Linked DNA regions of Homo sapiens. The protein of the gene in region 5 purifies or fractionates together with the protein of the main gene of each other region. This does not show direct contact. Each region holds a gene or a part of one and is shown on either strand. Other genes may lie near its edges.

The links.
Region 1: the proteins of SLC2A12 (region 5) and ABCB8 purify together in Homo sapiens (affinity purification with mass spectrometry; 2 studies listed by BioGRID and IntAct, with this or other methods). This does not show direct contact.
Region 2: the proteins of SLC2A12 (region 5) and SERINC1 purify together in Homo sapiens (affinity purification with mass spectrometry; 2 studies listed by BioGRID and IntAct, with this or other methods). This does not show direct contact.
Region 3: the proteins of SLC2A12 (region 5) and GNL1 purify together in Homo sapiens (affinity purification with mass spectrometry; 2 studies listed by BioGRID and IntAct, with this or other methods). This does not show direct contact.
Region 4: the proteins of SLC2A12 (region 5) and DNM3 purify together in Homo sapiens (affinity purification with mass spectrometry; 2 studies listed by BioGRID and IntAct, with this or other methods). This does not show direct contact.
Region 6: the proteins of SLC2A12 (region 5) and ABHD17B purify together in Homo sapiens (affinity purification with mass spectrometry; 2 studies listed by BioGRID and IntAct, with this or other methods). This does not show direct contact.
Region 7: the proteins of SLC2A12 (region 5) and COQ8B purify together in Homo sapiens (affinity purification with mass spectrometry; 2 studies listed by BioGRID and IntAct, with this or other methods). This does not show direct contact.

Annotation. Positions count from the first base shown.
Region 1 is NC_000007.14:151,031,450-151,034,949, reverse strand, and holds part of ABCB8 (mitochondrial potassium channel ATP-binding subunit), read right to left. Parts: intron 1,346-3,500; coding exon 1,033-1,345; intron 678-1,032; coding exon 522-677; intron 446-521; coding exon 351-445; intron 227-350; coding exon 121-226; intron 1-120. UniProt on the Homo sapiens protein: ATP-binding subunit of the mitochondrial ATP-gated potassium channel (mitoK(ATP)). Together with pore-forming subunit CCDC51/MITOK of the mitoK(ATP) channel, mediates ATP-dependent potassium currents across the mitochondrial inner membrane.
Region 2 is NC_000006.12:122,445,330-122,447,807, forward strand, and holds part of SERINC1 (serine incorporator 1), read right to left. Parts: intron 1,937-2,478; coding exon 1,792-1,936; intron 1,676-1,791; coding exon 1,445-1,675; intron 1-1,444.
Region 3 is NC_000006.12:30,549,990-30,553,489, forward strand, and holds part of GNL1 (guanine nucleotide-binding protein-like 1), read right to left. Parts: coding exon 3,361-3,500; intron 3,191-3,360; coding exon 3,095-3,190; intron 2,673-3,094; coding exon 2,478-2,672; intron 1-2,477. UniProt on the Homo sapiens protein: Possible regulatory or functional link with the histocompatibility cluster.
Region 4 is NC_000001.11:172,404,498-172,407,997, reverse strand, and holds part of DNM3 (dynamin-3), read right to left. Parts: exon of another isoform or gene 227-3,500; coding exon 157-226; 3' UTR 1-156. UniProt on the Homo sapiens protein: Microtubule-associated force-producing protein involved in producing microtubule bundles and able to bind and hydrolyze GTP. Most probably involved in vesicular trafficking processes, in particular endocytosis.
Region 5 is NC_000006.12:134,000,625-134,004,124, reverse strand, and holds part of SLC2A12 (solute carrier family 2, facilitated glucose transporter member 12), read left to right. Parts: intron 1-1,995; coding exon 1,996-2,128; intron 2,129-3,500. UniProt on the Homo sapiens protein: Insulin-independent facilitative glucose transporter.
Region 6 is NC_000009.12:71,873,194-71,876,693, reverse strand, and holds part of ABHD17B (alpha/beta hydrolase domain-containing protein 17B), read left to right. Parts: intron 1-1,610; 5' UTR 1,611-1,613; coding exon 1,614-2,080; intron 2,081-3,500. UniProt on the Homo sapiens protein: Hydrolyzes fatty acids from S-acylated cysteine residues in proteins. Has depalmitoylating activity towards DLG4/PSD95. Has depalmitoylating activity towards GAP43. Has depalmitoylating activity towards MAP6. Has depalmitoylating activity towards NRAS.
Region 7 is NC_000019.10:40,696,387-40,699,886, forward strand, and holds part of COQ8B (atypical kinase COQ8B, mitochondrial), read right to left. Parts: intron 1-3,500.

The DNA.
Region 1 (3,500 bases), on a different chromosome or scaffold from region 5:
TTCTCGAGTCAGCATGCGCCTGTCAGCCCAACATCAGGGCTGGGGCGGGCAGGGCTGGCCTGGTGAATCCACATGGGAAAGTGTGTGTGTGGACGTGGTGGGGGCCACTGGGCCACTGACCTGGGAGATGACAAGCTTGAAGGATGACTTAAACTCCTGCACGTCAGTTGTCAAGCGGCTCACCAGCTGCCCTGTCTTATTGGCGTCAAAGAAGGTGATGTCTTGTCTGGCATGGGACAAGAACCAATAAGGAGGGCAGAAGAGGGAGACATTACTTCAGGATAAGGTCCTACCCCCAGACCCCTCAGGCCATCAGTCACCCCAACTCTGCACCCTGCGGCTGGCAGTACCGGAGCAGGGAGCTGAAGAGGGCCCTCCGCATGTCCACAGCCATGCGCTCGCCAACGTGGGACAGCAGCACCAGGTACCCGAAGGTCAGCAGTCCCTGCGAAAGAGCCCAGTGCACTCAGGGATGCCTCGGGTGGCTCCTCGGCGGTCCCCAGCCCCACTCCCGGCTGTACCTGGACACCATAGAGGATAAGCAGGTGGGTGCTGAGATTCTGGGACTCAGTCATGAAACTCCCTACGTGGTCCCTTGTGTACTTGGCCACGACCTCTACCAGCTGGCCCAGGAGCAGGGGGATCTGTACATTCACGAGTGCCGCACCCAAGGCCAGCTGGAATGGGGAGACAGAGGGCACAAATGTTTTAAGTGGGGGAGCCACTCCTCCCCATCCCCAGCCAGATCTTGGCCCTTCCTCTCCCACTACTGAGCACTGCGCTTGTCCAGGTTGTGGCTGGTCATGTGGACACATCAGTGCCTCTCAGAGGTTCAAACCCTGGCTTCCAGTCCCCACGGAACCCTGCCCACCCAGCCACCCAGTGTTGATGCTCCTGGCACCCCTGGACCCCTGGCTAGCCCTTGCTGCTCCCCTGAGCTCTCCCCTGAGAGGCAGCGAGGCAGGAATGCCATCCCTTTGCAGCTCTGGGTCCTGCCCTGTCCCCAGGATGGAGAAGTGGGGAAAGCCTCACCACGACGGCTACCCCCAGGACCAGCAGGTGGGGGTGCAGAAACTGCCAGAAGAGCTTCCAGTTAAAGCGAGACCCCACGACATGGGGTGTGGAGCTGGCAGGAGGGGCCTCTTCTGCCTCACACAGGGCCACAAGGCAGAGGTGGGGATGCTTACTCAGTACCATGGGGCCTAGCAGGGCTCCCCCAACCCAGCACCAGGCAGAGGGGCTCCATCTGGGAGCTAGGGGGGCTCGAGGGAGGTGGGCCCAGAGCTGGGACCGCAGGTGGGCCACGGCCCGGAGGAGGGAGGAGCTGCGGTAGCCATCAGAGTACCTGTAAGGAGAGAGAGGCATGGATGGCTTGAGGCTCCGACTGCCCTCCTGCTGACCAGCACACCCATGGGGCTCTGGCTGAGCCCTCTGGAAGGAGCACTTCCTCTTCTGTCAGGCCCTTGCCCCTGCCCTTCTCAGGGCTGTTCTGAAGCAACTTCAGTTTCTAAGACATGTCCATGGGCAAAGTCGCAGAGGAATGAGGCACTGAGCACAAAATCTAGTCTTAAAAGTCTTATTCCCCTGGGCAACTCTCAGGCAACACCCAGCCAGCCAGGGCCCTCGCAGCCTCGACTCCAGGCTCTGACAGAATGACAGCCTGAAGAACTGGATGGCACGTTAGATGGCCACACACTGCCTGGACAGGAAGGGGCCGGGGGTTTAAGGGACCACGGTGCAGAGAGGTGAGGAAAGAGAGCTGCTCCTGTGCCCGGCACTGGACTTGCTCACAGCAGCCACCAGGGCAGACACAGCCCCACCTCCTGGAGCTAATGGGCTACTTCCCTTGATCCTCACCTCCCTGGGAGGGAGGTGCCATTATTCTCACCTGACAGATGAAAAAAATCATGTGGAGCTAAGAGAGCTGAAATAACTTGTCCGCAGGCAGCAGAACTGGGACGAGCAGGGAACCAAGTCTGCAGTCTGACTCCAGCACCCAGGCTGGCTCTACTCTGCCAGTGTGCCATGTCTTCTGATGTCCCAGGCCCATTACCCTACCTCCCCTCCCTGGCCTGGGGCGCCATGACACACACTCCCTCTCCACAGCTGAAGGAGGAAACAGAGAAAAATAAGAATTCTAATAACTTATCTTGTCATCTTGAATAGGACAATTACCTTCTCTTTCCTTCAGCTGCCACATCTATAAAATGCTAACATCGATTCCACTATTCTAGACATTGTGTTTTTTTTTTTTTTGAGACAGAGTCTCGCTCCGTCACCCCGGCTGGAGTGAAGCGGCACAATCTCGGCTCACTGCAACCTCTGCCTCCCGGGTTCAAGAGATTCTCCTGCCTCAGCCTCCTGAGCAGCTGGGACTACAGGCACGAGCCACCACGCCCAGCTAATTTTTGTATTTTTAGTAGAGATGGGGTTTCGCTTTATTGGCCAGGCTGGTCTTGAACTCCTGACCTCATGATCCACCTGCCTCAGCCTCCCAAAGTGCTGGGATTCCAGGTATGAGCCACCGTGCCTGGCCTATTCTACACATTTTGAACCTACTGTGTGCAGGTGCTCTGCTCGGAGTTATGGAGTTACATGACAGCTGAAGTAACTCCCCTCACAGCAGTCATGCTTGAGTGCGGGAGACTCACAGTTAACTGGAAATCAGAGGCACAAAACAGCTTGAAGCCCTGCTCCTCCTTCTCCTCAGAGGGAGTCAGGAAAGGCCTTCTAGGTAAGGGGGAACCTGTGAGGGGGAACAGGCCAGGCACAGGTGGGGGTGGAGTGTAAAGGGGAGAGCTCTAGGCAGAGGAAAAGCAAGTGCAGGTATCTCCAGTAAGAAAGGATGGGAGAGAAATTTCAGGAATTGTATGGCTGAAGCCTGACCTACAAGAAGGGAAAAGAGACATGAGACTTGCGGGAGGGGCAGTTTTCTAGTTCTTATAAAGCTCCTGGACTTGGGGGGCAATAAGGGTCATGGTGATTTTTAGGCCGAGATGTGCCAAGATTAGGTTTTCATTTTAAAGATCGTAGCATGGCCGGGCGCAGTGGCTCACGCCTGTAATCCCAACACTTTGGGAGGCTGAGGCGGGTGGATCATTTGAGGCCAGGAGTTCTAGATCAACATGTTGAAACCTTGTCTCTACTAAAAATTAGCTGGATGTGGTGGTGTGTGCCTGTGGTCCCAGCTACTTGGGAGGCTGAGGCAGAGAATCACTTGAACCTGGGAGGAGGAGGTCACAGCGAGCCAAGATCGTGCTACCGTACTCCAGCCTGGACAACAGAGCAAGACTCTGTCTTGAAAAAAAAAAAAAAGATCATAGCAGAGGGGCATGGGCTGGAGGCAGACAGGACTGGTTGTAGGGAGCAGAAGTTATCCAGCCAGGAGAGGATGGTGAGATCTAGAAGATCTAGATAAGCTTACTGATGGGGAAAGGTTTAAAAAAAGAGTAGTGTGAGCTTTTCTCTTTACCATCATGGCCTTTCACATCCCTAGACCC
Region 2 (2,478 bases), about 12 Mb from region 5:
TCCACACTGCTAGTGTGAAGGTAAAAATCTGTTATTTCCTTTAATGGAGTAAAGTATACAGGCCTCTGAAATAGTTATTTTGCATAATCTCTGAAGCACTTTATGCATGTCTGCCATGTTATTAGACAGAAGAGGAACTGAATGTGACCTCTGGATAAATGAGATGTCACTATTACATAAGATTGTTCAAGATGTATATGGAACTCCTCACCTGATTTCCACTCCCCCAACCCCCTCCCCCGCCCCTCCCTTCTCAGAATTAAGAGACTGGTATGACTCAGAGATATCTCCTTAAAAAAAGAAAGAATTAAGAGACTGGGAAGGAAATATATCTCAAGTTTAAGTGATTTTTGAGTTAATGAAATATACCAAAATCCTTCTGGTATAAAGCCTTAATATCTACTATTATGTGACAGCCAAGGATCTGAGTTAAGAACCAGCTGGTACTCGGGAGGCTGAGGCAGGAGAATGGCGTGAACCTGGGAGACAGCTTGCAGTGAGCTGAGATCAAGCCACTGCACTCCAGCCTGGGTGACAGAGCAAGACTCCATTTCAAAAAAAAAAAAAAAAAGAACCAGCTGGATTCTTATAGCTTAATACGCTACAGTGTAAGAATTAAAAAATATATATACTTTTCAATAATAAAAATCAGTAAAGGCTGCACTCAAAGACATACAACAAAGAATAATCTTTTTCCTCCATCTTTTGCTGATACTGAGAGCCGCCTTACAATTTGTTTATTAATATTATGCATTAAAAAGTTATTAAAAACAGAACTTCCCAAACCACATAGTTCAATTTGAATCTTTGACCAAATCTTTCAGTAATCATTTGGACAAAACCAGAACTTTCAAAAATGAAACACTATAAATCACTATCTTCCTTTTAACAGAAAAAGATTTATGGATTAAGTTTGAAGTGATTAAAAAAAAAAGTAGCTTGTAAGAATTCTAAGCTTGTAGAATTTGTAGAAATTGTTGCTTGTAGAAAGAATTCTAAGCTTGTAAAAATTGTGGCTTGTAAGAATTCTAAGAATCTATCTACATTAATGAATTCATACTTAAATTTAAAAATTTTCAGAGCTTTTAATGACAGTTCAAACAAAAGAGAAAAAAGGATGTATCCTTTACTTCACTATCTTTACAGAATTGAAAAAAAAAATGTTAGATCCACTATCAACATGGATTTTTGTAAAAAGTATTAGTTTCATGAAAATTTTTATTTTAATCTCTCCAAGATTTGGAACTATTTCAATGTTTGTGTTACTGTTAAAGCAAGGAAGTAAAGACTGCATTTCTCATGCTGATCTCACTATTCATTTAGCTGTACATTTTGAAATATATCAGAGGATAAAAAGTACTTCATATCACATCATGGTTTCACAAGAGAATCATAAAATGCCATCAGAATTCACACATCCAGAGTTTTCATGAAATATAAATACCTGTACCAGTTGGTAAGGGTCATCATGATATAAAGTGAAGCCAGGAAAAGCATGAAGTGAAAGAAGGAATAACTGTAAGTGACACCATCCCTTTCATTATCTACAGCTCGGTGAACATCGTCCCCATCCTCCAGTGATCCATCACTTCTAGCTCCACCATCTTCTATTAATGTAGATTCATCACTTGTTAGAGTCAGTTTATTAACCTGACTATTGTTTGAAGTACGGATGCTGTATGAAAGAGAGTTTAGGAGGAGAGAAAAAAAAGAACATTTTTAAAAGAAATGATTCATAAATAAACAGCTAGACTTCTTGTTTAAAGAAAAAAATTCCATAGTTTTTCCTACCTGGAATAAAATACACACAACAAAAAGAGAATTAGTCCTATAATTCCTTGAGCATGCCACCACTGGACTGACTGCCCTTCCTTTGGGACAGTGCTTGTTGTATTGTAGCCAATTATGCTTAGTAGACTTGGGTTGCAATTTGTTTCTGTAATATAAAGCCAAATTAAAATGTTAGAATATATTAAAAAGATGTTTTTCAGAGCAAACAAAAGTTATTTTTAACTCTCTATACCCCTGCAAATTGAGAAACAATTGCTGGAAAAGGCATCAGTATAACAAAAATAATTGAAGAAAACTTGCACTTATTAATAAGACCTTTGAAGTGTTAATAGTTCTGATTTTATAGAAGTACCTGGAAAAGTTAAATCATTTAATTTTCAACAACATGTGATAGCTGAGAGATAATTACCTCTACAATCAGGAAAGAGGTGAAATATAGATGAACTTTCTAAGGTTAGTATAATTCTAGTAGATTTAGAAAGAAAATTCAGAGATTATAAACCACAATGCACTGGCTTTTCTATCATATGTTGAGATTATGATACAGACTTTATGAAGCTTATCAATTTGATACAGCACATTGTTAAAAAACCAAGACAGCTTACACAAAAACCAGTTATAAGGACTCCAGCAAATGCCTCATGGAAATTACCCAATAAAGTATAATGACCTACTGCTTACTCAAGT
Region 3 (3,500 bases), about 100 Mb from region 5:
ATTTTCTGTATTTTTTGGTAGAGACAGGGTTTCACCATGTTGGCCAGGCTGGTCTCAAACTCCTGGCCTCAAGTGATCCACCTGCCTCAGCCTCCCAAAGGGCTGGGATTATAGGCATGAGCCACTGTGCCCAGCCTAATCCTGTGGCTTTAAATACCACTTATATCCATCAATGGTTCCCCAAATTTAAATCTTTCCCAAATTCAAATTTCCGTCCTCTTCTCTCCCCTAAGCTGCTGACTACTTACCCACTGCCTATTCAACATCTCCACTAGGGATATTTAAAAAGAATCTGAAATTTCATTTCTGATTCCCCTCTCCTCCCCAAAGCCTTCAAATCTGCTTCTCCCCCAGTCTTCCCATCTCAGTATTTCCAGTTGCTCAAGACAAAAACCTGGAAGTCCTTCTTTATCCTCACTTTCCTTCACGTGCCAACTGCAAGCCATCAGCGATCTCATTTTCTCTACCTTCAAAATATATCATGCTTCCGGCCCTGTCTCACCACCTCCAGCTCCAGCATCCTACTCTAAGCAACTCTTATTTCTCTCCTAGATTACTGAAATAGCCTCAACTGCTCTCTCTGCTCCCTTTCTTGCCCACCCCCCATCATTTATTCTCTACTCAGGAGGTAAACTTATAAGAAACAAAATCAGATCCTATCATTCCCCTGTTCAAAACCTACCCTTGGCTTCTCATGAGACTTGGAATAAAATCCAAAATGGCTGTCACAGCCTCAGGGCTCTACATGATGTGGGCCCTGGTGATCTTGCTGACCTCATCCCCAGTACTTTATCCTGGCTCCCATACTCCAATCCCCTGGGCACTCTTGCTGGTCCTAGAATCTCCAAGCCCGTTCCCTCCTCAAGACCCTTTCCCCACAGTTCTGAATGGCTCACTTCATCTCATCATCCAGTTCTCTCCTCAGGGAGGTTTTCCCTGAGCACCTCTCCTCTCAGTCACTCTCTATCCCCTTTCATTGCTTTATTGCCTTCACTGCCCCTACATGATTTCGGATCACAAAATCTATTTACTCACAAGAAAATAAGCTCCATGAATCTACAGACCTTTTTGCCATTTCCACAGCAGTATGTCCCATCCCTAGAATATCTGGCACCTGGTTAAGTGTTCAGTACATATTTGTTGAATGGGTAAATGAATGAGAGCTGGAGGGAAATCCAAACTCAGGGGTGCCTGTGCCACAGCAAACACTCTCCCTCTCACACCACCTGGAATAGAGATCAGCTAGAGCAGAGGCTGCTAAGAGAGGGAACAGAGGCTCCTTGTGACAGGGAGACTAGGATCAGAAGTCAGGGAAGGGACAGCCGGGTGAAATGACTGGAAAGAGGAGCAATCACTCAGCAGTAAGGCAGGTTCTTCCAAAGACAAAAAGGACACAGAGATAAGTCAGGGCACTTCCAAGGAACCCAACTACCTACTCCACACTCCCAAATTTATTCTGGGTTGGGCCCTTTTTGGTTCCAATATCACCTCAGATACCATAACTTGTCCAAGGTCTCTTCTTACCTCTCCCACCCTAAATGAAGACGGGCCCTGGGTCCTAATCATACATTCCTTTTTCCTCCACTGTGAGCTGAGACAAAGCCCTTAAGAGGAGATTCTCCTTGGCAACAAACTTAAAGGGTTAAAACCTAGAAGAATACTAATTCTTGCTGAGCTCCTACTATGATTTGATAATCACTGTACTACAGACTAATTACTACAATTCAAATGGTTTATATAAACCACTTAAAACAGTGCCTGTTACATAGTAAGCACCATATAAATACTGAGTTTTAACAATAATAATTGTTATTATTGTTATCACTATTTGTCAGGCATTCTTACACTCTCTTAACACTATTCCCATCATTCCTCACATCCATTCTTTTTTTTTAAAGACAGGGTCTCTATCAGCCAGGCTGGAGTGCAGTGGCACAATCATAGCTCACTGCAGCCTTGAACTCTTGGGCTCAAGTGATCCTCCTGCCTCAGCCTCTGAAGTAGCAGAGACTACAGGCACATACCACCACACTTGGCTAGTTTTCTTTATCTTTTGTAAAGATGGGGTTTCACTATGTTGCCCAGACTAGTCTTGAGCTCCTGGTCTCAAGCAATCCTCCCACCTCAGCCTCCCAAAGCGCTGGGACTATATAGGCATGAGCCCTCACACATGGCCGTCATCCATTCTTTTACTCAGGTATCAATGTCCTTATTTTTAAAATCAAAGTAACTAAGACTCAGAGTAGCAAAATCACTTACTCAAGACCTCACAGCTGAGAAGAGGTGGAATTTAACTCAGGCTGTCATGATCCTTCCACTGCAGCAGACGCCTCTTCTGCCTTGCCCACCGCCACTGGCAGAGATCACCCCTCAGACACCCTGGGGCCTAATGAGACCTGATCGCCCTCTCTCTTCTCCGAATATGAAAACTCTGTACCTCCTTGGAGGCCACCACGCACAAGCTGCCACTTCCTTACCCACACAGCCGATGGTCACCACCCCATCCTTGTAGCGCTCTTGGGTTGGGCCAGTTGGCTCCATTGCTGAATCAGTCTGCTGCTCCACCAGGACTGCTGGGCCATCCTCCTCTTCCTCCTCCTCCCCAGAGCCATTACCCCAGGTGGCCCCAGCCACATCCCGAGCAATCTTCTCCCGCCAGCTGCTCAAGTCCACTGCTCAAAGAAGGAGAAGATTAAAGAGGTTCTCCCCAGGGCTGCTGTGCATGATGGCACATACTGTGCCCTGCACAGATTATGTAACTGGCACCCTCTGGAGTTGTACAGTGCCAACCTAAATAAGAGCAGGTCAGAGAATCTCCCAAAAGTCATTTGACCCTACCCTCCCTGGAATCACGCACGTTTCTCTGAGCTTCTGAAAAGTACTGGGAAGGCTAAAGGCAGCAAGCCACTGAGGCTCCTGACTACCTGCTGCCTCTCGTCCCACCAAGTCAGTCTGCTCCTTATTCTGTCCCTTCCCCTGGCCTCTTGCACATATCCACCATAGAGGGGTTGGCTTCAGGAAAGGTGAGCAAAATGATTCTGCATCTTTGGTCTCCCCCATGTCCTCCTACAGCCCTCCTCTAAGGGCCACATACCTTTCCCCACAGTGATGGCTTCACAGGCTCTCAGCAACTGCTCTGGCCCCAGGGCCCGAGTCCATCCTCTCCCCCGCCTCCGACTCTTCTTCAAGACTGAGATCAGAGGGCACAAAAGGATGGGCACACGGGCTTAGGCCTCTCATCTCTCCCACCACCCTTAGGCCCAAGACCAGGTGCCCCCTTGTCAATAAGCCTCTCTGTTCTCCCCTTTGTCCCCTGCCAACTCACCTCTCCCAAGTTGCCCTCTCTCATTGCCCACTCACCACTACTAGGGTCCTGTGGGGTGCGGGGGTCCCGAGGAAAAGAGGTGAAAAGGACGACGTGGAGCTGGGGATAGTGTTGATGGAAATAATGCTTCCAGGCAACCACAAGAGCTGGCGGGGCCAGATCCACCTTGTTCAAA
Region 4 (3,500 bases), on a different chromosome or scaffold from region 5:
TGAGCAATGAAGATGAGCGATGAATGCATTAGTAAAACTGGTTACTTGCCTACTGATGTCCACACATGCGACTACTCATGATTTACTGCAACGGTTATCAAATATGTTGCTTTCGCATAATTCATTAGTGATTAATTGCCATGCCAGACACTTCGTTTAGTCTAACAGGGAGGATTCTAGTGGGCGGATTATAGTGGGACGAGTTGGTGATGGGGGTGGTCTCCGGCTAGAAAGAGAAAAAGAGAAAGGTAAAGAAACAAGTAGAATATCTAGCAGAACATTGTTCCAAGGACACTGAGAAAGAGCCATTACACACATGCTCATGCACATACAGGCCAGCAGAAGTGGTTATGATCTGTAATGATTTTAACATTGTCACCTTTCATTTATCTAGTAGTTTTAATGAAAATTACGTCTTTTTTCATATGCAAATCTTTCTCAAAACTGAAGTCATTCCTTCCAATACTAATAAGAAATATGAAACTATTTGAAAGCCATCTGAAACGTACTGCACATATCTTAGCCAATAGAATATAATAATTACATAGAATGAACTCAGGAACTAATAAGGTATACTGTTTCAGACAATGATGGCTTTTGAATTTTTATTTCTCACATATAATTTTCCTTTTTCTTTCAGGATATTATTATCACTTCTCATTGCCTTTTTGACTTTCTCCAATTTGTTCTATATTATGCTTGTAATTTACAGAGCACTAAAAATCAGAAAAGCAAGTCTTTAGAGTTCTCTGTAGCAAGTGTAAATAGGCTCAGTGTTGAGTGCCTGTTTAAATTGCAGGAGCTCTAGTTCCTATTTTGGGTCTTAAAGACTTTAGTATTGGTATTAGTAGTATTACTCACTTTCTAGTTGGTAATGATGTTTCTGGTAGCTGAGTTTACTAAGCAAACGTACTTTAGATAATGAAATATTACTGTATTTGAGAGTCTCAACATTACCAAGTAATATTATTTATTACTTATTTATTCCTCAAGCTTCTACATTTATTTCCTAAATATATTAATAAGTTTTTTTAGTGTATTTGTGTACTTGACTTCATATATGGTATCTTGGGTAGTCATTTTTTTACCCCCCCAAATTTGACAAAGTCTACAAATTGAAATGTTTCTTTTTGATAAAACTCTGCAACTGATTTTTTCAGAAAGACTCCTTCTGGAATTATAGTCATAAATTTTTCTTCTGTATTAGAAACTCTATATTGATCAAATTGAATGTCCTTTCTCAGGTATGAAGAAGTGAAGTTAGAAAAATTTAAGAAAACTATTATGAAAAATAGTTTTGAAAAATAGTTTTGAAAAAAATAGTTGTTGAAAAATCATGGAACTATAAAATTAAATTACACGATCAAGGAAAAATCAAAGCAGGAGAGATATTGTTGATTAATGGTGAAAATATTAACTATTTAGGCACAAACTCATAGATATTAGTAGAATTCCTTTTACCTCATGCACTTGAAAAATGTGTAAGAGGCTTCAAAGGAAATCTTTCTTTGGGGAGGTACAAAGCACTGGAATTACAGGTGTGAGCCATGGTACCCAGCCTTATTTTCATTTAAAATGGCCATATATGTTTAACTTATGTCCTGAATCTTGAATCTGCATAATTTTCTTCTTTGATAGGAAGTTTCTGAAGGGCGCAGGTCACACCCACTTAACTTGTTTCATACAGTGTTTAGCATGGTGTTACATGCAATTACATTCTCAATGTCATTTTGGTCATCTTCTGAGACTACTAACTAATCATTTAAGACTTACTTCAGTGAAGCCTTCCCTGACCTGCCTTCCCCTCTCCTGATACAGTTGTTTGTATAGCATCTCAACAAATCTCTATTATTAGTCATCACACTGAACTCTAATTAGGCTTATATGTTATCTTCACTGATGAGAAATGAGCTGTCTCTTAATCATCTTCATGTAACTGTGGTATCTAGCTCACTGCTTGTCATTCAGTCACTGAATGTTTGATAACTGAATGAATGAAAGTTCCTCCTAGAATCAAGAAATAACTAATGAATGCTTGTGATATTCATTGGTCTTATAAATACAAGGATATTTGTGAGTAAATCATGGCCATGGCAAAAAAAAAAAAGTAGCTAAAGTGACATGTAGGATTGAGATCCTTGGTGACTCTAAAGTATCTAACTGCTCAGTTCTTTAGTAGATATTTGGAATAAATACCAAATAATAAGCCCCCTGCCCTCAGGGAGTTTGTCAAATAATCATGTAACCTATGGAAATGTATTCTTAGCAATTAACCAGTTGGCTGGTGGGAGGAGAGAACTGGCCAGAATTTGAGCTTTAAGGAGGGAAATTCTACCAGAAGTTTTGATAATGGAATTAATTAGGTGATTTCATTAAATAAAAAGTTGATTTTAGACTACAAATTCAGTGAGAAGTAGGATACAGCATGGCATGATGGATTGGAAATCGTTTCATGAATATGTGATAGCTTGGATCAAGGCTTGTAGCCAAGAGAGAAAGGAATGAAACTGACTTCTCTTGATCCTTTTGTTCTTGGCTTAACTGTTATTCCTCAGTCCTTCTGGACCATCCCATAGTTTTCCTGACTTCCTCTGCCTTCCCCTATGACTTCATGTTTGTGTCTCTCGTAGCACGTAACCCTACTTGTGATTATGTATTTATTTACTAGATTATTACCAGTGTCCCCCAAATAGATTCAAAATTCCTTGAGAAAAGAAACCACATATTTTGCATTTATTATGTGTATTCAGCATTTGGTACAATGTGATTAGAAAGCAGTGGTTAAGTATTTGTTGAATAATGGACAAATGAAGAAATGACTGAAAAGTGCCTAAACAAGATATTTAGCCAGGCTAGAGTTTAGGCTAGATCAAGGTGAGTAGGTCTAGCGAGGCCAAGGATGCTACACTTTTAAGGCATTTATCAGAAGCTTATATTTGAGATACTATGTTTACATAGAAAGAGTCCTGGATCAGAAGTTAGAAAATGTGGATTCTAGCTCCAGTTGCCAAATTGTACAATCAGACTAGATGATCTATGTCAAGACTTCCAGTTATATATTGCATAGATTATTTATTGAGCATCTAATATGTGGACTGCTTCATGCTACATGACTTTAAAGAGCTCAGCATCTATTCAGAATGGAAGATGAGTGGAATAAAACAAATATGAAAGTAGCTTTATTATAGTACTTCATTTTAAGTGGAAAAGTGGGGCAAAATTTTGTAATTCGGAGTCTGAGAATACACTCTGGGAAGTCTGAAAATACAATAATGTGGTCAAAGTGATGGCAAACATGATTGTAACTGCTGCATATAAAACTTGGAAGTAGGAATGTAGGTCTATAATGAGTGAAATTGGAACTTAAATGATGGCGATTGAAGGGAAAAATTCAATGGTGTGGATAGAGAATAGAAAGACTTAAGTACTCTTATGGCACAGTAAATTCTCATTAATATCTGCTTTAATCCTTGGACCATGTGGCTGGGACAAGAGCACAA
Region 5 (3,500 bases):
GCTAATACACTGGAGGAGCTAGTGAAGCTTTAGAAGTTCCGTATGGGCTTTTAGAACAAATGTAGGAAAACAGATCCACTTAAAAACAAAAAGCCTAGAATGCTCTAAAACCTTTAGATGACATTTAATTGGAATGCTTGACATTTCCTACTTATTTTCAAAAATAAATTTTCCAAGTGTAGGACACAGGGATCTAAAAGACGTGAGGTTCTACTTGGCAGTAAGCCCTTAAACACCAACATTTTTTATGCAATTTCAGCTGTATCAATAAAAGCAGACTGTTCCAGATAGACAAATGTACTCTGCAGTGATCATGACACAATTGTAGCATTGCATTCAGCTCTGAGTAAAACATCTCGAGAGGGCCATTTAAAAATTGCAGTGTGTTCGCTGAAGGAGGGCAACCTGAATGGCGAGGGCAGTAACCTATGCTGTGGGAAGAATGGTTGAAGAGCTCAGGATGTTTGACTTGGACAAGGGGATTCTCAGAGGAGGGCTGAGGTGCATTCAAATATTTGAATGGCTGTCACGGAGAAGGGGTGGGGAGAGCTGATTCACTGTGTGTCCTTCCACAGGACAAAGCACAGCCTCTGAAAGGCAGATTTAGGATCTAAGCAAGGAATAACTTTTTAGCAGACGCAACTATTTCACAGGGCAGTAAGAGGCTTCGTGAAATGGTGAGCTCCCTGTTACTCAAAGTGCTCAAACAAAACTGGGGACAATTTGATGAGACAGCCTTTAGGGTTTTGACAATTTCTATATTCTGGTTTTAAGCTCCAGAGAAGGAAGGACACCCAATTCTACAAGGACTTTATTAAGCAATCAGTTGGGCCATACCCTGTGCCAGCTAGAAAAGCAGAGAGAGACAGGAGTTTAATTAAAATTGCCAAAAGAACTGCAGTGCGGTTCCTCCTTCCTGCTTCTCCCAACCTCAGCACAACTCACCGACAAGTAGTTACTATGCTTCGATTCTTTCATGCTGCATTTACAAACACTGCCTCAGTACACAAGTGCTCAGTCAGTTTTCCTGCCTGACCAACTGTGGTTTGTGGCTGCAGCTGTTAAAGGCTATTTGTAAAATCTTGTTGTTCGTAGTTGACTACTCCTTGCCACACTAGACATTCTGCTGCTGAGTCAGGGGCCGCCACAATGCAAATGGCAGCCTCAAGTGCACTGTGGGGGCCACTGCTGACCACTGAATGTGCCTTGACTTGGTCCATGACTACAAAGGGACTGTATCTTTGGCTGGAAGCGGTCAGAGGAAAAACTAGGTTTGCAGATGAGAGTCATCAGAATCTTGAGGATCCTGCTTCTTGTGATGCATCTTGGCAAGTTGATGGCTTTTACTGGATCCATGATCACTTTTTTCTCTGAACCCAGGAAGAAACATTACAAATACACTGCAAGCTATTAAAAATGATGAAATATTGCCAGCATGAAATGATTTATTCACATCAGAGCAAAGAAGGGTGAGCTCATTCCAAGAAAAATCCATCTGTACAAATGTCATTAAAAATGTCCACCATTGGGAATGATAGCAAGAGGGGGAAAAAATTGTCCACCGAACAGAAACTAAACTGCTACCATGGCGATTCCCAAGAGGGGAACTGTGGAGAGGGAGAAGAGAGATTTTACCTTCTACATCATATGTTTCCATGTTATTTGAGGTTCCTTTTTTGCATGTGCTTTTTTATATTAATAAAGACACATTGCCATTTTGAAACAGAAAGACATGCCCACCAAGAAGATGACATTGGGTGTAAATTGTGATAGTTACAAGACTGCTATTTTCTTCAACAGAGAAAACTAAGGTAGTCTGTAAAAGTAACACCTTCAGAGCTGGCTACATTTTAAATTTGTGATTTCTATTTTCCTGGATACTGCTGGCATGTTTGAAAATACATATGGTGCTATGTATGCCCTAAGTGGCTGTTCACAAATGGGATCAAAGCTACACAAAACACATTTCTAATCAATTTCTTTTGTCCTTTATAGATCTTATTGGCCTGCCATGGGTGTGCTTTATATATACAATCATGAGTCTAGCATCCCTGCTTTTTGTTGTTATGTTTATACCTGAGACAAAGGGATGCTCTTTGGAACAAATATCAATGGAGCTAGCAAAAGTGTAAGTATTACATGCATTGGTTTCTGAACAATACTCTTTGGTCAAAAGTGCAGCTTTTATATACAGCAAAGGAATAATATCTGAAATTATTAGATATTATTAGATTAGGACATTCCCTTTAGCGTAAGACTATGTCTCAGTGCATAATTCCAATTTCCCTGCTTTGTCTTTAATTTGGGTGATTCAGCTAAGGAAGAATAACCATTTCTTCCCAATGAATGAAGCTTTTTTTTTTTTTTTCAAACTACAAAGTGAATGTATTTGATTGGCAAGTGCAAATTTTCACTTATCAATGAAATATTGTACTGAATTTGAATAAAATCTTTACAATTGGAATGTTTTTTAACGTTAGCCTTTTATAATTATCATCAAACTGTAATGCTATTATTCATTACTATGACCAACCAATATGTACGTACAAGGTTACAAGTTTTTTCCTTTTATACGAAACAAAAACAAAAATACATCATTGTAATTAAAAAGCATTAAACCATATTTTCCTTTTTTGTAATGTAATAATTTTTACTAGAACAAAGTTTAATATTTTCACTGTCTGCATTTCTTTTCGGAAAAAGAAACTGTTACTATTGTTGTTTTACCTGATTTTTTCCTGAAACTAATTTTGTTGTACAGAGGATGTGAATCTTCTGTGCTACTGATTAAAACTATCTCATTTAAAAAACAGTTTATTTCCATAGGTTTTTGGGGAACAGGTGATATTTGGTTACAGAGTAAGTTCTTTAGTGGCGATCGTGAGATTTTGGTGCACCCATCACCGGAGCAGTATACATTGAACTCAATTTGTAGTCTTTTATCCCCCACCACCCCCCAATGCTTCCCCCACCCAGTCCCCAACCAACGGGTGAACATTTTAAAGCTCTACTCAATCACCATCTCAGAACTTCTTCCGCCTCTCTAGCTCCCCCCAACAGGTTTTCTTTGTTTGGGGTTTGGGGTGGGTCCCGGAAGTGTAGATATACCATGTTCACACTGGGCTAGGAACTTGGGTCTCAGCCTTTCCATCTCTATCAGACTTAGAGCTCCTTCTCTGTGCCCTAAACACTTGCTAAGGCTAAGATTAGCAGAAAAACTCTCAGGCTTAACCATCTACCGTTGTTCTAAATATTGCACATTTAAGGTAATTTTAAGAAAGATAAGTTTCTTATATGAATAGGCTTTTAGAAAACTGGTTTAAAAAATTTCACAAGGAGAGATTGTTTAAACAATTTAACTTAGAAGTGAAACATTTAATTTAGAAGTGAGTGGCAGAAAATTCCCTTTCCTTTTTTAGTAGCTCTAATTGCCAAAACCATGTCCTGGGGGAAGAGGTGAGACATAGGGGCTAAGAATGAAGCAGAACTTGTTACTCTTC
Region 6 (3,500 bases), on a different chromosome or scaffold from region 5:
ACTCTGTTGAGTTGTTTTCTTCCCATTTTTGGTGTAATAGGGTACTTTTTTCCCCCTATTCTTATATTTAGATTTTTTTTTTTTCTTTTTGGAGAAAATTGGATGCCACCAAACCTGTAAGGTGTTGGTTTTAAATGCCTTTTCTCTGGAACTAAGCAATGGCCTAATTTTGCTAAAAAGAGACAGGAATTTGAAAAAGGACAAGATAGAAGGAAATACTGATAGAACTAACAAGTATTACTTTATTTTTGTCCCTAAGTTAAAGTGTGACAATGATATGGCCATCACTCACCGTATGTTGTATGATGGGCCTTCACTACACCAACATTTGATATTCACAACCAGGTCCTTCAGTGTAGGTATTGGCCTTGTTTACTTATGAAGAAAATGAGAGTCAAAGAGATAGTTTGCCCAAGGACATACAGCTGGCAAACGGTAAGTGGTAGAGTTAGGATTTTACCCCAGCTTCCTAACTTTAAACCTTGTACTCTTTCTCTTCCAAACATTTAGAAAAGTTTACCTTTAGTAGATTTTACCTTTTTTCCACAATAAACTTTATATTATAGCCTTTTTAGTTTGGGCAGTAATTACATACATACATACATGCATGCATACATACATACACTTTAATGTTCTATAGGTTATTTGGGCCACTGGCACTGTGACCAAAGTGATAGTCTTCTGAGCGTGTTCTGAATCTGTGAGGCAGTGTAGCCCAGTAACATAGTGTAGTGACAGCCTGGAGTCAAATCCTGGCTCCACCACTGCCTCATCTTGTGCAAGTTTCCTTTCTCACAACAACTTACACAGTTGTTCTGAGAATTAAACCAAGTAACACACATAGAGCACTTGGCACAATGCCTGACAAATAGCTTCATAAATGCTATTAGTATGTATTCACTTTATGCTAAATTCCTAGCTTCTCCATGAGGTTCTAAGAACTTTTGCTGAGTTACATAGAAATTACAGACTACACTAAAGATATTTCATACCTTCAGGTTATTTGTAAAGAAATGGCAAATATTACCTTTATCATTTTTGACATTTATGTTAAATGAGATAATAATCACTGCTATTTGAAACCTGTCATATAGGATTTGAGTCTGTCTGCTGGTCAGGAATATTTGCCTCACCCCAGGATTTAAAGTACTTCTAGAAAGAAGCCAAAGGCCGGGCGTGGTGGCTTACTCCTTGTAATCCCAGCACTTTGGGAGGCCGAGGTGGGTGAATCACCTGAGGTCAGGAGTTCGAGACCAATCTGATCAACATGGAGAAACCCCATCTCTACTAAAAATACAAAATTAACCGGGTGTGGTGGCGCATGCCTGTAATCCCAGCTACTTAGGAGGCTGAGGCAGGAGAACCACTTGAACCCGGGAGGCGTAGGTTATGATGAGCTGAGATTGCGCCATTGCACTCCAGCCTGGGCAACAAGAGTGAAACTCCGTCTCAAAAAAAAAAAAGAAGCCAAAAATCTGTTTGGAATCATACCTAAAATAGTAATAGTCATTAACCACCAATAAAATTTACCCATGTCTGTGTTTTAACTTTTTATTGTATGAGTCTACATTCAGTTATTAAAATATTTGCTATCTCCTTTTCTTTTTCAGAGCATGAATAATCTTTCATTTAGTGAGCTATGTTGCCTCTTCTGCTGTCCACCTTGTCCAGGGAAGATTGCTTCAAAATTAGCGTTTTTGCCACCTGATCCAACTTACACACTGATGTGTGATGAAAGCGGAAGCCGTTGGACTTTACATCTGTCTGAACGAGCAGACTGGCAGTATTCTTCTAGAGAAAAAGATGCTATTGAGTGTTTCATGACTAGAACCAGTAAAGGCAACAGAATTGCTTGTATGTTTGTACGTTGTTCACCCAATGCGAAATACACTTTACTCTTCTCACATGGAAATGCTGTTGATCTTGGTCAAATGAGCAGCTTTTACATAGGACTAGGATCACGGATTAATTGTAATATATTCTCATATGATTATTCTGGATATGGTGCCAGTTCCGGGAAACCCACAGAGAAGAACCTCTATGCAGACATTGAAGCTGCTTGGCTTGCTCTTAGGACAAGGTAAATTGTGGTTGGAATTTATTTTTCATACTCGTGGTGGTTAGCTAAAAATATCTTGTGTAAGAATAGAATAAAAGCTGTTTTTATTATACATAACTGCTATATAGAGGTTATATTTACTATTATATACCTGTGAATAAATATTTTAGACAGCAATTTTAAATTTCACATAATAGCAAAACAAAGTTTTTAAAGACAGTTTCAGGTTTGTTTGTCTACATTAATACACGTATATATGTATGTTTTTTTTAACTTAAATTCTTAGCTGGAAGTCCATGGTGCATGCCTATAGTCCTAGTTACTTAGGAGACAAAGTCAGGGGAATCACTTGAGGCCAGGAGTTTGAGGCTGCAGTGAGCTATGATCGTGCCACTGCACTCCAGCCTGAGTGACAGCGTCAGACCTCATCTCTTAAAAAGTTAAAAAAAAAAAAAAATTAAATCCAGTGACAAATGTTTGGTTTTTGTAAGCTTTCTTATTGGAGTGTGATATAAAAAATGTTTATTCAAAGCTGCAACCTTTCAAGGAAATGAGAGAAAATACTGACATAGCTAATTATTCACTTGATCTGTCATTAACAGTATGAGGCTGGATTGCTTTCTATTAAAATCTTAAGCCAAGATTTGCATTATTTTATGTGATTACTTCTTGGGAAGTACAACTTAAAGATACCTTATTGGAATTATTTTTCAAGTATTCATTCTGTAAAACTGAGATTTTACTTTATATTCTGTGTTCCTAAAATTGGGAGAGATTATATCAAGTTTAAAAAAATTTTTTAGGCTGGGTGCGGTGGCTCACGCCTGTAGTCCTAGCACTTTGGGAGGCTGAGGCAGGCGAATCACAAGGTCAGGAGTTCGAGACCAGTCTGGCCAACATGGTGAAACCCCATCTCTACTAAAAATACAAAAAAAAAATGTCTGGGCGCAGTGGCTCATGCCTGTAATCACAGCACTTTGGGAGGCTAAGGCAGGTAGATCACGAGGTCAGGTATTCGAGACCAGCCTGGCCAAGATGGTGAAACCCCGTCTCTACTAAAAATACGAAAATTAGCCGGGCACAGTGGCGGGTGCCTGTAATCCCAGGTATTCGGGAAGCTGAGGCAGGAGAATCACTTGAACCTGGGAGGCGGAGGTTGCAGTGAGCTGAGATCACACCACTGCACTCAAGCCCAAGTGACAGAGTAAGACTCTGTTTAAAAAAAAAGAAGTTTTAATGTTATGATAAATTGTTTAATAAAATTTTCTTACTATGTCAGTTATTCTTTGATTATAGCAGCATACATTTTGGGGAACTAGAAATTGCATTAATCTTTTCTAGTCACCAAGATACCTAAACATTTTTCTTGAAAAAAAAATCACAATTTGGTAGACTTCAGTGTATTATTAGTCAGGTTAGTGTACAATAAACAGATACCTTA
Region 7 (3,500 bases), on a different chromosome or scaffold from region 5:
CCACACGTGGTGGCTCACACCTCTAACCCTAGCACTTTGGGAGGCCAAGGTGGGTGGATCATGAGGTCAGGAGTTTGAGACCAGCCTGGCCATCATGGTGAAATCCCGTCTCTACTAAAAATACAAAAATTAGCCAGGTGCGGTGGTGCGTGCCTGTAATCCCAGCTACTTGGGAGGCTGAGGCAGGAGAATGGCTTGAACCTGGGAGGTGGAGGTTGCAGTGAGCCGAGATTGTGCTATTGTACTCCAGCCTGGGCAACAGAGTGAGACTCCGTCTCAAAAAAAAAAAAAAATACTCCCCATCCACGTGGAGCCTCCTGTGTATCCCGCCCTGATCACACCTCCCCCAGGTCCCCAGGGTCACCTCTTTCCTACAATCATTATTAAATTATTTCCTGAAATTCTCATTTATGCATTTCTATATTTTCTATGTATGTGTACAGCTGTAAACAATCTAGAGTAATGGTGTGCATATTTTCAAACTTCACAGAAGTGGTATTTACTGTCGTTCTCCTGCAACTTGTGCTTTTTGCCCAGCATGGTTTTGCGATTTATCCCTGTTGCCATGTGTCGCTCCAGCTCAGTCACTCATTTCACACTGCTGTGTAAGGACTTCGTTGCGTGAATCTATCACAGTGCATTTATCTGGCTGAGGAATACTGTGGTTGTTTCTGATTTTTTTTCCTTCTTTTTAAATATGTTTATTAGTTATAAACTCTGTTCTGACATTTTTTTTTTTTTTTGAGACAGGGTCTTGATCTGTTGCCCAGGCTGGAGTGCAGTGGCACGACCATGGCTTACTACAGCCTCAAACTCCCACGCTCAAGTGATCCTCCCGCCTCAGCCTCCTGGGTAGCTGGGACCACAGGTGCACCCCACCACACCTGGCTAAGTTTGAAACATTTTTTGTAGAGATAGGGTTTCACTACGTTGCCCAGACTGGTCTCGAACTACTGGGCTCCAGTGATCCTCCCACCTCAGCCTCCCAAAGTGCAGAGATTACATTAGTGAGTCATCTCACCTGGCCTGTTTCTAATTTTTGTGCTCAATGAACACCTGTAAGAATGTTTCTAGGGCAGTAGAGTTTGAACTGACCACAACCCACAGTAAGAAATTGTTTCTACTGGTGGCTGGGCGTGATGGCTCACACCTGTAATCCCAGCATTTTGGGAGGCTGAGGGGGGCGGATCACCTGAGGTCAGGAGTTCAAGATCAGACTGGCCAACATGGTGAAACCCCACCTATACTAAAAATACAAAATTAGCTGGGTGTGGTGGCGCACGCCTGTAGTCCCAGCTAGTTGGGAGGCTGAGGCAGGAGAATCACTTGAACCCAGGAGGTGGAGGTTGCAGTGAGTCGAGATTGTGCCACTGCACTCCAGCCTCCATTCTCAACAAGAGCAAAACTCTATCTCTAAACAAACAAATAAATAAAATTATATATATATATATATATATATATATATAGAGAGAGAGAGAGAGAGAGAGAGAGTTTCTACTGGGCGTTCATGCAAATGCACACAAAAACGTCAAACAAAAGTGTCCCAAGGCCAGGCGCAATGGCTCATGGCTGTAATCCCAGCACTTCGGGAGGCCAAGGCAGGCGGATCACCTGAGGTCAGGAGTTCGAGACCAGCCTGGCCAACATGGTGAAACCCCATCTCTACTAAAAATACAAAAATTAGCTGGGCGTGGTGGCAGGCACCTGTAATCCCAGCTACTTGGGAGGCTGAGGCAGGAGAATTGCTTGAACCTGGGAGGCGGAGGGTGCAGTGAGCCGAGATCACACCATTGCACTCCAGCCTGGGTGACAAGAGCGAGACTTCATCTCGGGGAAAAAAAAGAAAAGTGTCCCAAAATAATATGGATCCCTCCCATCTGTGACATACTGACATCATCTATTCCATAAAAAAAAAAAAAGTGCTGGTGGATCATGAGGTCAGGAGTTCAAGACTAGCCTGGCCAAAATGGTGAAACCTCATCTCTACTAAAGATACAAAAAATTAGCCAGGTGTGGTGGCGGGCACCTGTAATCCCAGCTACTTGGGAGGCTGAGGTGGGAGAATTTCTCGAACCCCAGAGGCAGAGGCTTCAGTGAGCTGAGATCGTGCCATTGCACTCCAGCCTGGGCAACAAGAGCAAAACTCTGTCTCAAAAAAAAAAAAAAGTCCTGTTGGAAACCAATAAATTGATGTCAGGACTCCTATCACTTGGAGTTGGGTAAACATATCCCTGGGGTATGAACCTAGGAGGGGACACAGGGTGTATGCACATTGTGGAGAAAGAAGAGGCAAGGGACTAGGGCTGGAGACTCCGTGGGGCCACAGGATGCTCAGCAAAGGGTTCAGACTTGATTCTGAGGGGGCTGTGAAGCTGTAGGAGGGATATCTTGACCAGATTTGTGCTTTAGAAAGACCCCTCTGGGGACAAAATGGGGATAGACCACTTTGGAAAACAGTTGGCAACCCCTGATAAAGGTAATGATGTATCCACCAACACTCAAGTCTGCAGGTCCAAACCTTCACTACAGGTCTTTGTACACCCCCTGCCCTCTGCTGGGAACACTCTGCTCTCTGGATGGTTGTCTCCTTTTCCCCTGTCCCATCTCAGCCTTTTTTTTTTTTTTAAATAGAGCCCAGGCTGGTTTTAAATTCCTGGCCTCAAGGGATCCTCCTGCCTCAGCATCCCAAAGTGCTGGAATTACAGGCATGAGCCACCATGCTCAGCCTCTGGTCTCAGCTTTTTTTTTTTTTCTTTGGTGAGACAGAGTCTCGCCCTGTCACCCAGGTTGGAGTGCAGTGGCATGATCTTGGTTCGCTGCAGCCTCGACCTCCTGGGCTCAAGCCATCCTCCCACCTCAGCCTCTCAGTGGCCTCAGCTTTAATGGCACTTGCTTTAAGAAGCCTCCCTTAATCCCTGCTCACCCCACAGTGAGTCAGGCACTTTCCCTGGGATCCCATAACTTCCTGTGCCTCCCCCAACTCCAGCCCCCACCCCTCTGCCTGTGCCTCCCCCATCCCGGTCCTGACCCATCTGGCCTGTGCTCCTCATTGTGGTTGGTACGAACCACTCTAGGTCATCGCTGTGTGGTGCCAGGTCCCCCCACTGGACTGGGCACTCTGAGAAGGCAAGGGTCAGGGATGTCTTTTTATTGCTGTCAAGAGGCAAGGGCAGGTGATGGTGTGTTCTGTATGGATGACGAGTGTGGTAGTGATGGCTAACTGCCTTCCAAAAGCTGTACTTCCCCTCTGTGCTGTCACATTGCCACCAGGAACCACTGCCTAGCCAGGGACTCCATTTTCCAGCATGCCTTGCACCTAGGCAGGCTATGTCACTAGCTCTCACTGATGGAATGGCAACGGAAGTGCTATGTCCATTGCCCCAGGATGAGCTTAGTGTATTTAGCCTGGGCATTACTTTTTCCACTTCTGGCCAAAGCAGTTAGGCAGGGGGCTACCCTCAACCTCTCTTACCCTTTCCTTGGGAAGCAGAGCGTTGCAA